Homo sapiens: one gene and its partners. The protein of the gene in region 4 interacts with the protein of the main gene of each other region in a pairwise test. Each region holds a gene or a part of one and is shown on either strand. Other genes may lie near its edges.

Evidence for each region. The genes of interacting proteins can lie anywhere in the genome.
Region 1: the proteins of FOXD4L1 (region 4) and BOLL interact in binary tests that used the Homo sapiens proteins (3 or more experiments, as listed by UniProt).
Region 2: the proteins of FOXD4L1 (region 4) and EXOSC8 interact in binary tests that used the Homo sapiens proteins (3 or more experiments, as listed by UniProt).
Region 3: the proteins of FOXD4L1 (region 4) and BAG3 interact in binary tests that used the Homo sapiens proteins (3 or more experiments, as listed by UniProt).

The regions. Positions count from the first base shown.
Region 1 is NC_000002.12:197,782,520-197,786,506, forward strand, and holds the start of BOLL (protein boule-like), read right to left. Parts: upstream 2,801-3,987; 5' UTR 2,537-2,800; exon of another isoform or gene 2,497-2,536; coding exon of another isoform or gene 2,482-2,496; exon of another isoform or gene 2,113-2,481; coding exon of another isoform or gene 2,110-2,112; intron 1-2,109. UniProt on the Homo sapiens protein: Probable RNA-binding protein, which may be required during spermatogenesis. May act by binding to the 3'-UTR of mRNAs and regulating their translation.
Region 2 is NC_000013.11:37,006,950-37,010,114, reverse strand, and holds the end of EXOSC8 (exosome complex component RRP43), read right to left. Parts: intron 3,141-3,165; coding exon 3,044-3,140; intron 2,059-3,043; coding exon 1,938-2,058; intron 1,387-1,937; coding exon 1,280-1,386; intron 932-1,279; coding exon 816-931; 3' UTR 501-815; downstream 1-500. Other genes in the region: SUPT20H (transcription factor SPT20 homolog), read left to right, coding at 306-443. UniProt on the Homo sapiens protein: Non-catalytic component of the RNA exosome complex which has 3'->5' exoribonuclease activity and participates in a multitude of cellular RNA processing and degradation events.
Region 3 is NC_000010.11:119,671,880-119,675,379, reverse strand, and holds part of BAG3 (BAG family molecular chaperone regulator 3), read right to left. Parts: intron 3,126-3,500; coding exon 2,724-3,125; intron 1-2,723. UniProt on the Homo sapiens protein: Co-chaperone and adapter protein that connects different classes of molecular chaperones including heat shock proteins 70 (HSP70s), e.g. HSPA1A/HSP70 or HSPA8/HSC70, and small heat shock proteins (sHSPs), e.g. HSPB8.
Region 4 is NC_000002.12:113,497,205-113,501,464, reverse strand, and holds FOXD4L1 (forkhead box protein D4-like 1), read right to left. Parts: upstream 2,801-4,260; 5' UTR 2,209-2,800; coding exon 982-2,208; 3' UTR 315-981; downstream 1-314.

The sequences.
Region 1 (3,987 bases), about 84 Mb from region 4:
ATTACTACCATTTCCTGACGCTATACATTCCAGAGTAAAGCCCTACTTCCTTAAACCCTCTCTAGAAATTGCTCAACAGAAGCCTATATCCTGTAAGTTCTAACACCTTCTGATTGAGAGGCCCCATGGTTTATGTTTTCCCTTGTTTGAACAATTAACAGACCCAACTTTACTAAATGACGCATGTGTTCCTGGTGGTCTTTAACTAATGGTCATCGACAAGTTAATAAACTCTAACATTCACATTCACCATTTTCAGCCTGAAAGTCAAAATTTTAAATGCACTTGTCAATTTGAAGATTGGACTGATTTTGTTAAAAAATTATATACTTGTAGCTCATAAATGTTTATTCCAAAGAATTAGCTCAGTACATATCCACATGTTCACAATTCTAAGTTAGAGGACATAATTTAAATTTTAATAAATATATATAAATGTATAAGCCTTTGCAGAATGGTAAGATAATAGACTTTTAAGGTATAACTGAAAAAAAACCCAAGACTTGAGAATCACATTGAAGAGAAACCAATTCAAGAACTGGTGAATTATTTTCCATCTGGAAACACTAAACACACTTCTGAGACAAACCCCATAATATCCTAAAGACAAACCCCATAATATCCTAAATGTGTGCTTCAAAAAACTTGAAGTAAACTGGGTGTTGTGGCTTGTGCCTGTAATCCCAGCTGCTTGGGAGGCTGAGGCAGGAGGATTGCTTGAGATCAGGAGTTCGAGACCAGCCTGGGCAACAAAGAAAGACCCCATCTCAAAAAGAAAGAAAAAGAAAATAACAAAAGCTTGAAGTTCATAATTCCAATTCTCTGAGAAACAAACTCATGAAAATGAATCTCCAGCTCAGGTAATAAAGTTGTTCTTTTTCAAATTTGTTCTGCTCTTTCTTCTCTGGCCAATACAATCACAATCCCTAAATTAATCTTTGCAAGATGTACAGAGAAATGACTAGGGCAGGAGTGGCAATTGGGCTATAGGCTGGACCTTATGGGCTCTCTTCCCCATCCAGCCTTAAGGAAGTATGTACTCCTAATAAGGGAATATGTAAATACTTCTTTTAAAACACAGAAAAGCCACCACATTTAATAATTACTATGTTGTAGTTTCCAATGAAAGAAACTGGGAATCTAATCTTAACAGCTTTCTCTCTGGGCACTTGGAGGTTATTTGTGACTTCAGTCACTTCGCTCAGTAGGATATAATGCTCAGAATGGGTAATTCTGGAATGCTTAGTATTTTTCAACTATGGATTTTGTATTGCTAGAGATAATATAACAGCTCTAGTAGATGTAATCTTGTCTTTCTGCCCATTTGTTTACAGTGTCAAAATTACCTATTTGCTAAATTTAAAAAATCATTCTTCATGAAATTCTCTTATTGAAAATAAGATGTACTAATATGTTCGCAAGTTTAAGTAAAAGACAAACCCCATTATATTTCATTGAGAGAAGGATGAAATGAACGGAAGTAAACAGTGCTTTATTTCCAATCTCGAGAAACTAAAGGATACTCCCTGAGAAAAGAAAAACAACCTTTCACACTCAATTCACTTCATTCTCCTCCACTCTCTAAGGCTCTATTGTGGGCTCGCTCTGCTTAAGTTTTCTCCCTCATCATTTTCTAACATACGATATAGTTTACTTAGTATGTTTATTATCTGTCTCCACTATTATGTAATGCACCAGGGCAGAAGTTTTGCTTTTTTCATGGCAGCATCTAAAGTACTGACAGTACACAGCAGGTGCTCAATAAATATCTGTTGAATGACTAAAAGTGAATCATTTCTTCAGGAGAGACCTGCTCATGATATGCCAAATAGGCTGAAGGCTAAAGAATACAGTATAACAGCAGTCTAATACATATATATATATATATATATATATATATATATATATATATATATATATATATATATATTTGAGACAGTCTTGCTCTGTCGCCAGGCTGGAGTGCAGTGGCGTGATTTCGGCTCACTGCAACCTCCGCCTCCCTGGTTCAAGAGATTCTCCTGCCTCAGCCTCCTGAGTAGCTGAGACTACAGGTGCGCACCACCACGCCCAGCTAATTTTTTTGTATTAGTAGAGATGGGTTTTCACCATTTTGGCCAGGATGGTCTCGATCTCCTGACCTCGTGATCCGCCCACCTTGGCCTCCCAAAGTGCTGGGATTACAGGCGGGAGCCATCGCGCCAGGCCTACAAAATATTTTAATGTTAGCAATAGCAAGGCTCAGGTGGAGGCAACATCTAAGTTCATTATAAACAATTAGCGATGCATTGAGTTAAACAACAAAGAAAGCCTGAAATTCCACTAGCAATAATTCCGCATGTGTTACGGAAACACCTAGATGGGGACTGTTGCCGGGTTTGAAGGCTCCTCCGTTTGCTAAAACTTCCAGCACTAGAGAGTTTATTAAACTACTCCTCCAAAGCAATGTGCCCTCACTGGCCCCTCCCCTTGAGAATCAACCTCGAGATCTAGCATCTATTTTGCAAACGAAGACAGCAGGAACGGGCGGGCTAACCGTCGCAGTCACTGCCTCGGCGCTCCTCCCCCTCCAAGGCCAGCAAGTTGCGGCACTGGGGGAAATGGCCGCGGCGACAACTTCCTCGAGTTCTCTCGGGTCATCGTGAACTTGGGCACCGAAACGAGGATCCACCCCCTCCCCACCAAAGTGCGGGAGGGAAAAGAAGGCTAGCCAGCGAGAAATTTTGCCCCACAAATCCGCCAGCAGCAGTGGCGGGAAGCCTCAACGGCAGCGACCCCGCCGCTGGCCTCGTGCGCAGCTGGTCCCCACCCTCGCGCGGCGCTCCCTGATTGGCTGCTGGCGGCGGGACGGGGCGGGGCGGGATGGCACGTTGCCGCTGCGCCTCGGGCCTGTGCGGGCAGTCCTCCTTCACTTCCCCAAGTCCACCCTGACTGGCTTGGGTGCACAGCCAGGGCTAGAGTGTCCGGGTCCCGCCTGGGCCACAGGCGGGCCCTGCCAGGTCTCTCAGACCTTCCGGTCCTCGCTGACCAGTCGGGGAGTGGAGGCGTCGACCGCCCTGGCAACTCCTCGCCTTGGGCGGCTGGGTCGAGTTCGGCCGCAGGGAGCGTCAAAGACGCTGCCTAGCCCAATTTCGGCGGGAAAGCGGTTTACCTGCTCGGACTTCGCTGGGTGCCTGGCAGCCCGCCGCCTCCCGAAACATCCACGCCTGAGGTCCCCTGGCCCGTCTACACCCAGTCCAGGCCCCGTGGCGGCGCCTTTCTGACCCCCATGACACAGCCAGACGAGGTCTGCGGGCGGGTGGCTCCTGGCAGCGGTCGATGGGGCACCTGGCCACGTTTCTTCCCAACCAGATAGCGAGCGTTTGGGGCCTTCACCTCGCCCCTCCAAGCCCTCAGGGACAGGCTCCACGCTGCTCCTTCTCCCCGCTATCCCGCGCCCTGGGGCCCTGATCGCCGTACTCACCGGCCCGGACTCGGTTTCCATCTTCCTCTCTGCTCTTCAGAGACGCGGGGTAGGGAAAAGAAGCCTAAAGTTTGAAACCACCTTCACGCCAAGGCAGCAGCGCTGCTTGTCCTGCCTGGGACTCTCGCCCCCTGGCGGCGAGGGTGGCTGTGGCAGCTGCAGGGAAGCAGGCTCGGACCCCGGCCCTGAACCTGCCACCTGGCGGGTGGGGAGAAGCGGACTGCGTCGCCTCGGGTGGCAGGTGGCGGTGCGGGCGGGCGCTGCAAGCCGGAGAGGGGCGCGGGAGGGCGAGTTTCGGCTGTGGCCCTGGGACTCCGAGCCGGGGCGTCTCAGGGGCAGAGCGCACGGCACAGCGGGGCGGGCGTGGGGCGTGCGGAGCGAGGGCTCGGTTCTGGGACCCCTCTCGCCTTCTCTCAGACGGCTGGGGAGGAGAGAGCGAGCGGTCAGGCAAAGCTCCATGCACGCCTTCCCCTCTCCTCCACTTGAGAAGAGTCGGCCTCTGGGACTGGTGGGTTTCGAGAGGT
Region 2 (3,165 bases), on a different chromosome or scaffold from region 4:
TTGCTATAAACCATCATTATACAACAAAATGGTAACTGAAGTTGCTGAGTTACTACAATATAGACTGGCAGGGCAAAGTAACAAATAATTTTGAAGTTTGCCAAGAATCATTTTTAAAGCCCTTAGCAGGCTTCTGTGCCACTGGTGCTGTTTGACTGTGCATTGTCTCAATGTGGTATAGTCCCTTTTTGTTATCTTGGTGCTTTCTCCCTTTTTCAGTTGTGTTGTTTCGTCACTCAGGAAAAGCACCTTTCTACACCTGCCTGCATTTAACATAACTCGATTTTTTTCCCTCCCTTTTGCAGCAGTTGCGATTCTTGCAGCATCAAATGGCTATGGCAGCAGCAGCAGCACAAACAGCTCAGCTACATCATCATCGGCATACAGGCAGCCAGTCAAAAAGTAAAATGAAGAGAGGCACGCCAACCACTCCAAAATTTTGAGTCTTGCATTACTTTTTGTTCCTTTTTTAAAAACACAAGAGCACTGAATCAAAAGAATTGAGTTTCTACTTTTTGTTTTTTTTAATGTGTCAGTATTTTACATTGCTAGATGTACAAACTTTATACAGAAGCACAACCTTATCATTTTTAAATAAAAACAGGGAAATGGTTTAACAAACTAGGGTTGGTTTGCCTAAGTCATTGCTTTTTAAAAATGGTTTCACTATACATAATATATATGGAAGTGACCTAAGAAATAATAGAAACATCTTTCAGAAGAATGTAGTTTGATATTTATTTAGTATAAAACGTTTGTGCACAGTGTTAACAAATACAATTTTTACAAATCTGTTTTGAAAATGTGGTGGCTGTTTATTTGGGTTTCATACTCTTAATTACTTCATCCATCAGTTTTTTAACTTCTTTGTGTCTTGTAACTGCTCGGCTCATACAGTCCTGAAGTTTAGCTCCAGTTAGCCCACTTCCACCTGAAAAATTATTTTGCCAATACTTTTAATCTCAGTTATCATTCCTTTTCAAAAAACATTAATGTCATGTCAAATTATAAAACAAAAAAATTGGATAATGTAAATCAGGGTACAGTCTCAAGATCTACAAGTTAGTTTCACAAGACCTCCAAGTGATTCTAATGTATGTCTTAAGTTTAAGAACCACTGACATATACCATTAAGATGGAAGAACATTTTAGGTAGCTAAGAAACTATACTAAAATTAGGTAAATAAAATATCCCATATTCTATTTGGCCCTCCCTAATTTAAGGCTCACACTGAGTTTTCATCTACATATGTTTAGGACTGAAGTGGCGGGAACATGCCTGGTTTGTGAAGACAACAGAGTTTGCCTTCCTCATCCATTACTATTGTTAAGGTTCCTGTTGCCAGATGTTCCTCCTCTCCAGTAGGGTCAACTATAAGCAAAGTGCTATAAAAAGAAAAAAATATAAGTTATCAATCCATGGAACAAATTTTACTTTAAAATACTAAACATACTATCAGCCTCCCAAGTAGCTGGAATTAACAGGCACACGCCATCACACCCAGCTAATTTTTGTGTTTTTAGTAGAGACAGGGTTTCAACATGTTGGCCAGGCTGGTCTTGAATTCTTGACCTCAGGTGATCCCCTGCCTCAGCCTCCCAAAGTGCTGGGATTACAGGCATGAGCCACCATGCCCGGCCCTGCTCTTCTATTTCTGAACGTGCTAAAATCCTTGGAAAATATTGAAGATAGCTTCAGATAAATCTTATAGTGAAAGAATTGGAAATTAACATTACACAGGTATAAGTAAACCAAGGAACAGGTAATAATTGTGCAGTGACTAGAAATAATTGTGCAGGGACAAGTAGAAACTCAAGTGTCCAGGGAAAACTAGGATGTAGGGTCACCATAGCACTTCCTAAAGAGTTAGAATGCTGAACATCAATTACCCTAATCTTAAATATAGAAAATTTTAAAGTAAGTTTGATTAACTTACTCATCAAACACAGCAAAGGAAGTTGCAACTGGATGAGTTCTAATATTCAAATAACTTTTCTTCTTTAAATTAACTTCTGCTAAAGCAGTTTCTTCATTTATAGTAACTTCAGGCAACTGTACTAAGAAAAGGCAAATTTGTAAAGTAAGTAAGTCTCTAAGAAACAAATGATTTCTAAGCTTTTTTTTTTTTAATTCACCTTTCCCTCTATTTAACTTGCCCAGAACATTTCTTTTTAAAAAGCACCTTACAGCCACTAAGGTAAATATAGAGGATATACATTGCTTTTCACAACATCTGACATTCCTACCTAGTGCTTATTGCATAATTTTTTTTTAAGTTTAAGAAGTCAATGATTTTTTTTTAAATTTATATCTGCCAGGTACTGTTTTAAGCATTTTCATATTTTCATTGTATTCACCTAATCAATACTCTTACAAAGTAAGTACTATTATCCCTATTTTATTATAGATAAGGAAACTTCAGCACAGAGTGAGAGAGCCAGGAATCTACTTTAACCAGTCTATTATAATATTTTGCTGACTTCATTTTCTACCTCCAATTCACTTAACCACTCTACTATAATATTGCTGTGCTAACTTTATATTCCACCTCCAATTATTTGTTCCTACCAATTCATCATTCATCAATGATAGGGAATATGCACAAGTTATTGAAATCTGTAACTAATCAGTCAACCTAGACTCCTTGCTAAGAAACTTCCCTATTACTATGGCCTCACAGTAAAAACAACAGAATCCATTCTACTTCTTTTGGCAATATCACATAAAGAACTATGAGGATACTGGCAGATCTTCACCAATCACCTAGCCAGAAGTTACAACTCTTGTCTCCTTCTCCCACCAATATTAACACTATTTTGGAAAGGACTGAAGTCCTAACTTAAGTAGATGGGTACAGTCAAAGCAGCACTCTAAAGAGCATTCAGTTAGAGAATATACAACTATCAACTATATTTGGAAAGTCATGTCAGCATTACATTCATTAATTTGGAAGCATACGAAAGCAAATGTACATTAAAAGTTTCACAAAACAACATTCTAACCCATGAGTGGGAATATTGCCTTTTTTGTAAGGCTGCTTACCATTTTTTAAAGCCGCTAGCAAAGCAAATGTGCAGGCATCCAAAATGTTTCCATCGTAGTCGAGGCAAATGAGATCACAGTATAGAACCCAGACAAGCTAAAATAGAATTAAACACAAAAGG
Region 3 (3,500 bases), on a different chromosome or scaffold from region 4:
TCCTGTGACTATAAACTACAGCCATATAGATATATAGATTTTTGTGGGGGACAGGGTCTCACTCTGTTGCCCAGGCTGGAGTGCAGCGGGGCTATCACAGCTCAATGCAGCCTCAACCTTCTGGCCTCAAGTGATCCTCTCACCTTAGCTTCATGATTAGTTGCAACTACAGGCACATACCATCATGCCTGGCTAATTTTTCTATTTTTTTGTAGAGACAGGGTTTCACCATGCTGCCCAGGCTGGTCTTGAATTTCTAAGCTCAAGCAATCTGCCCACCTCGGCCTCCCAAAGTGCTAGGATTATAGGTGTGAGCCACCACGCCTAGTAAGCCATATATTTTTTAATGAGCTATGCTCAAAGCAAAAATATCTTGACGCTTTTTGTTTTTGTTTTTGTTTTTGAGACGGAGCCTCGCTCTGTCACCCAGGCTGGAGTGTGCAGTGGTGTGATCTCAGTTCACTGCAACCTCTGCCTCCCAAGTTCAAGCAATCCTCCCACCCCAGCCTCCCGAGTAGCTGGGATTACAGGCGCCCACCAACATGCCTGGTTAACTTTTTTTTTTGTATTTTTAGTAGAGATGGGGTTTCACCATGTTGGCCAGGCTAGTCTTGAACTCCTGACCTTAAGTGATACCCCCGCCTCGGCCTCCCAAAGTGCTAGGATTACAGGATTACAGGCGTGAGCCACTGCGCTTGGCCTTATCTTGGCTCTTATTCATGTAAGTGAATATCTAACACTTCTTTTAAAATCTCACCCTAATTTCATCAACTGGGAAATAACTGGACTATATTATTTCTAAACTATTCCCAGCTTAAAACACTCAATTCCACTATAACGTTCAGTTTGGTGAAATCCTGGAAAGCCTCCCAAAAGGGAACTTTGAATCAGCTCTAAAAGGGAGGTCACCACAAACACGGTTAATGGTAAGAACAGGATGAAATATCATTTCACTGATGATGAGAAACACATGGGAATGATGTGGAGAAAATATCCCTCTCTCTACAAATGGGACCCTCCTAGGATTGCTGAACCCAAGTATGGATCGATGTAGCTGTCTACACTCCAGCAACCTCCTTTTCCATCAAATCTCTTTCGCCAATGCAGACATTCGCAACTTTGGCCCTTACCACTCACAACCCAACCACGCACCCCTCCTAGGTTCTAACAGCAATGGCTGTGTAAGAAGTGACTTTAGAAACACTTTAGAGAGGGTGTTCCACAGCCTGTGTTCTTCAAAACCGTCAAGGCCGTGAAAGCAAAGAAAGGCTGAGGGAAGACTGAAGAGAAGTTGCATCTAAATGCGGTGCTCATGATCCTTGTTTCAGTCCTGGAAGACATCCTGGAAGTGGGGGCAAACTGCTATAAAAAAGATTCAAAAATGTACTGGATAATAATGTTGTAAGAATGTGAAATTTCCTGAATCTGGTAAGTCTACCATGGTTATGAACGAGAATGTCTTCCTCTTAGGAAAATATTTGCTATTCAGGGGAAAAGGGACATGATGTCTGCAATTAATTTTCAAACAGTTAAAACACATCAATAATATACGAGAGAAGAAATGACAAGGCGAATGCAGACATATTGACAAACAGTGAACTGGATGAAGTATATGTGGGGCTCTGTATGATTCACACAACTCTTCTATGAGATTGAAATTATTTCCAAATAAAACAACATTTTAAGATGAGGGTGCTCTATTCCAGGGCCCTGGCCAGTGTGACCATTTGTAATGAAAGAATATCCCACATTTGTTCACGGGGGGCTTTCCTTTTTAAAAACTGTAGCATTCAGCTGCTCAAGTTGCAGCCACAGGGGGCCCAGGGCTGCTGACTGTCCTGCTGCTAAGCTGTGAGCTGCTTAAACTAAATGACATCCTCTTCCAGGAACCTGCACCTTGTGTCTCCACTGGAAGATAACCAGACCCCTGCCTACAACCTTCCCCAGGCCAGCACGGCTTCCAATCCGCCATAGCTGGCTGATGCCTCAGCCAGACCACATGGTACCTGATTACAAAGGGAGGAGGGGGGTTAAGACATGGGCCCTGTGGTCAGGCTCAGCCCTAAGCTGAAGAGATAAAATGAACACTTCTGAAATGCCCCGAATAATGACATGTTGAACTCATACAAGTTGGGAGTTCTCATTAAGGGACTCATATGAGGCATCATGAGATGAGAAGGATGAGTAGGCTTCATGGAGGAGACAAGACTGGCTCGTCCCTCAGAGGACAGGGAGAACCTATACTGTGCGGGCATTTCAGGGAGCGGGTTCAGCATGGGCAAAGGCACAGGGGTGGGAATGAGCAGAATGGGCCTGCAGAGTGGAGTGGGTAACTGAGTGGAAGGTGACACACTGCCTACACCCAAGGTGAGGCTGTGGCTGCGGTGTGGATGGGGGTGTGAAGAGCCCTGAAAGGGTGTGGTGGACACTAAGGAAGCTGGTCCCAGGTATGTAAGTTCTGCCAAGCTGTTTCGTCTGCTCTAAGTCAGCCGCAATGCACAATGATCAGCCCAGCAAAAGCTGCAGAGTGCGGAGGGTTCACAGCCTGAGCAACTGTCCTGCATTTCTGTTAATACCTAGCAATTTCTCGAATCTCACTTGCCTGTAGGTACACGCATGTTAAATAGGCAGGGATGAAGGGGGAACCCAGGGCACCCACAGAGCTCCTGCACCCCTGGAGACATACCACCATAACCAGTCTGCTGACGACTAACTTCCCGTACCTGAGGCCTGTCGACCACGGTGTGCACACGGATGGGCGAGGGGGAGTGGAGTGGCGTGCTGCTCCTGGCTGGTGAGCCCTCCCGGCTCGATGCACCCTGGACAGATGACCTGAACGGGGATGCCGCCCGCAGGGGCCGGGGCTCCCAGTCATCCCCCTGGATCTTGTGGTACACAGGCTGGTGGGTCTGGTACTCCCCCTGCTGCGCTGGGTAGTGCGTCTTCTGGGCTTGGTGGAAGGAGGGCTGGGCTGCTGGCCGGGTAACGTTCTGCTCGTGTATCACCGGAATGGAGATGTACCCCCGCGGGAGCTGGTGACTGCCCAGGCTGCTCCTGCCGGAGGAAGGCAGGCTGGCCGAGGAGGATGAGGATGAGCAGTCAGAGGCAGCTGGAGACTGGGACCGCTGCAAGAGACACAGGGTAGAGGGCATGACCCCACAAATGACTCCCCTGGCTTGGCATCCTGACCACGCCTTCTGCTGTGCACCTCCTCAGGGCAATCCATATTGTAAGACCTCCTATCTGTAATTTTCAATTTTCAAAATGTGCGGTTAAGACTGAGAGCTCTGGGGCTGGGCGCGGTGGCTCACACCTGTAATCCCAGCACTTTGGGAGGCCTAGGTGAGTGGACCACCTGAGGTCAGGAGTTCAAGAGCAGCCTGGCCAACATGGTGAAACCCCATCTCTACCAAAAATACAAAAATTAGCTGGGTGTGGCGGCGCATGCCTGTAGTGCCAGCTACTCAGGAGGCTGAGGCAGGGGAATTGCTTGAACCTAG
Region 4 (4,260 bases):
TTCCAAATTGATCTCAAACGGTTTTCCAGCTTGTTGGGGGGTGAGGAAAAATAAATGGAGAATATATTTACATGCCCTCCTATTCTTTTCTTTTAGAAGTCTCATAAATAGTAAATTTCCTATTTTAAAAGCCAGGACATTTTCAACCTCAAATATTTGGAATTTTTAAAGGCCATATTAAAATGGATTACTTCTGCTATCTATAATAAATATGAATTGTGAAAATAAATTGTTTGAGGGAAAATAATGTAGGTTTTAAAAAGTTCCATTTAGAAAGGGAAGAATGAGACGTAATAGAAAATAACGATGTAGTGTAGTGACTTAGCATTTTATTTCGTCTATATAACTAGGCTTAATTTTAACACCTTAATTTTAACATTAAAGATGGCACGTCAGACACACAGATAAGAAATCAATGTTCTGAAATTAATATCCTACTTACATTAAACATCCCTATCAGGAAGACACAGAGAGTAGAAGCATTTTGCACTAGACTTAGGAATAACACTTCCAGTTCCAAGGAAGTGAAGAAGGGGGAACATGTTTGGCATCGGAGGCTGTGTTTTTGTTTGCTTGCTTGTTTTTCTTCTAATGCCAGAACAAAATACCCCACTCACGTTCATAGTACCCCAGGAAATGTGCAAATCCGGAAAGCCACAGAAGCCACAGCCGAAGGCAAGAAAAGATGACTTGACGCCCTGCGAAGGTTACGTTCAGGTGGTTTTTAGAGGAACGTAATCCAGCTGTTTCTTTCTAACCATTTTGCAGGGAACAGAAGTTCGTGTTTGCTCTCCAGCAGGATTCAGATGCACACGCCCAGTATGGGCCGCGCAAGGTGGAGTGAGCAGCTGCGGATCGCTCCCCACTCCCACCTGGCTCTAGGAGGGCCCTGCGGACTTGGCCAGGGAACTGGGCGTGGGCGATACTAAAAAAACTGGTGAGGTCCCCTCTCCGCCCAAAGGGGCAGCCAGCGATGTCAGCCTAGAGCCCTCTGCCACCGCCTGATACCGCAGCAGCGCCGACGCGGCCGACAGGTGCCCGCCCAGCACCGCGCCCTTGGTGGGAGCGCAGCCGTTGGCGCAGTCCTCCTCCTGATGCTGCTGCTGTTGCTGCAAAATTGTCCGACAGGCTTGACGGTCGCTGGAGCAGGGGGCAGTAGCTCCACGCGGTCGGGGACAAACTCTGCGCAGCCCCTGTACCCGCTCCCCTGACCCCTTGCATGATACTCTCAATGCTGAAAGAGATGCATCCGCCTCCCGGTGGCGACGCCAGACCCTTGCCCTCCTCCCAAGGCTGAGGACCAAGTGAGGGCTGCAGCACGGGAAGGGTGCCGGGGGTCGCCAGGTCCGCGCCTTCTGCTTTCTTCGGTGCCCCGGCATAGGCGGGGGCCGAGAGCAGTAGGTAGCGAGGAGGATGCGGGTGCAGCAGAGCGTAAGGGCGTCTCCCGGGGGCGGTGTTGGGGTAGGCCCCCGGGACTGGCTGCGGCAGGGCAGGGGCCCCAAGCAGAGGGCCTGGGCGGGGGTTGTGCAGGGCGGCGTGTGCAGCAGGTAGAGGGAAGGGGTGGGGCAGGTGGGCTCCCGGGGTCAGTTGGTGGCGCTTGAAACGCTTCCTACGCCGGAGAAAGCTGCCATTGTCGAACATGTCCTGGGAGGCGGGGTCCAGGCTCCAGTAGGTGCCCTTGCCTGGGTGGCCCGGCTCGCGGGGGATCTTGACGAAGCAGTCGTTCAGCGAGAGGTTGTGGCGGATGCTGTTCTGCCAGGCGGGGAACTTGCGGCGGTAGTAGGGGAAGCGGCCACTAATGAAGGCGCAGATGCCGCTGAGCGTGAGGCGCTTGTGCGGGCTTTGCAGGATGGCCATGGTGATGAGCGCGATGTACGAGTAGGGGGGCTTTGCCGGCTGCCGGGCATCTTCAGAGGCCGCCGCAGACCTTGGCGGTGCCCTGAACTCGGTGCCAAACTCTGAGGGGTCGCTCGGGCCGCCGCCCTCGATGTGCTCTCGGGGAAGCGCAACCCCGCCCCACCGGGCCACCTGCAGCCCCGGCTGGAGCGACTGCTCTAGGAACTTCTGGCTCGCCTCCTCCTCCTCGTCTTCCACCTCGTCTTCATCTTCCTCCTCTCCCAGGACATCGATTTTACCGTCTTCCCCATCGGAGTCCCGGAGGCTGCGCTGCGGTGTGGAGCGAGGGCGCTCAGCTCTTGGCAGGTTCATGGCGGAGCAGGTGCTTCAGTCGCAGGGGATGTGGCGGCCGATCACCTGGCCCGGGGCGGGCTGAGCTGGAAGCCTGGGATGAATGTTGCAAGAAGCAGGAACGCTAGTGGTTACCCTTTGGGATGTTTTCCTCTGCTTGTTTCTACTCCTTTGCAACAACGTCCGGCAAAGATGCCTTTGCCTTTTATAAAAGCTTCTTCAAGACCATGTGTGGTGGACTCCCCCCTTTATAACCCTTCTTCCCCTACCTCGGAGCGGTGCCACTTCCTCCTAACGTAGTCCAGGGATGATGGTCTTCTGGGCAAACACCGTCCGGAGAAAAGCCCAGCCCCCTCCTCCTCGCACCCACCTGCCACCAAGGAAGATGCTCTACTCATCCGGTGCAGCCAGACAAGTAGGCAAGCCTTTGCACGGGTTCTGTTAAGGCGCATTTAAACCCGCGCAAATAAAAGCGAGGTAGGAAAGTAGGATACTCAACATTCTACGACCATCTCGACATGCAGCCTTCCCTCCTGGAGAAAAGAAATGGTGGGGCAGGAGGCTGAAATGTACACGGTTGTTTGTAAAGGAATGTGTAACCGTAAAAGTATGTTTTTGTGTTTCACAGCTGGTAATCACCCATTTTCATTGGTAGAGTCTGTCCTTACCCAGAATGGTGAGCTGAATTATATTTAAGGTTCTGACAATATTCCCAGGCTTCAGGGGGGTGTTGCTTTGCTCCTTCTACCTTCCTTCCCACCTCCCCAAGATGCTCTCCCCTGACTCAAATTTTCAGAAAAGGTTCAAATGTCCCAGCACTAAATTGTGTAAGTTTATTCAGGGAAGGCAGGAGAGCTCACACGGAGTCCTCTGTCCCCTTGTAGCAATGGTTCTCCAATTTCTTTGAATATTTAACCACAGAAATACATTTTATATCACAATCTTACACATACAGACATAATACATAACTAAGATGGCTTTCACGAAACAATATACTTACACTATAGTGATCACTGATATTTCCTTTTAAAAAAAAATGGCCATAACCAACTAAATTGATTTCACACATACCAGTATGGGCCCAGTTTGAAAAATCCTGTTCTTACAAAGTGGCCCCACATACAAGAAATGCACCCACTCTATAAGGGCTTCTCTCTCTCCCTTTCCTCCTTCCTTTCTTCATCCTTTATAACCAATTCATTTTTAGAGACAGGGTCTATGTTGCACAGGCTGGCTTTGAATTCCTGGGCTCAAGTGATCCTCCCGCCTCAGCCTCCTGAGTAGGTGGGACTACAGGCGTGCCACTATGCCTGGCTCTGGCTCTTCATTCTTTTTTTCCTTTTTTTTTTTTTTTTTTTTTTTGAGACGTTGTCGCTCTGTCGCCCAGGCTGGAGTGCAGTGACACAATCTCGGACCACTGCAAGCTCCGCCTCCCGGGTTCACGCCATTCTCCCGCCTCAGCCTCCCGAGTAGCTGGGACCACAGGCGCCCGCCACTACGCCCGGCTAATTTTTTTGTATTTTTAGTAGAGACGGGGTTTCACCGTGTTAGCCAGGATGGTCTCGATGTCCTGACCTCATGATCCGCTTGCCTCAGCCTCCCAAAGTGCTGGGATTACAGGCGTGAGCCACCGCGCCCGGCCTCTTCATTCTTTCAGAAATGTCAACATTAAGTGCTTTTACTGTAATAAAACTTGGGACTTCAATGAGGCAAGAAGGGGCTGCAGTGTTGCCTTTAAATCAGTGGGTCCTCATTCACTGTCTGCACTGGGGAGGGGCAATATGACAGCACAACTGTTCATCTCACTCGCTCCACATCCTTAGAAGTAACACGATTTTTAGATTGGCTTCATGAAAATTAGCTCAGAGACTAAAGTAGCACTACAGAGGAATAAAAAAAATATTTGTTATATAAATAAGGATCTTATTAAAATACTAAGTAAGATACTATGCCACGGTATATATTCATAATTTAAAACCCACCTACTTGGGAAAACTTTGAGGTGCCATCTAATAAAAATGCAGCATGAAAGAATATTATGCCCTTGATAGTCACATAGTGTCTATAATTATG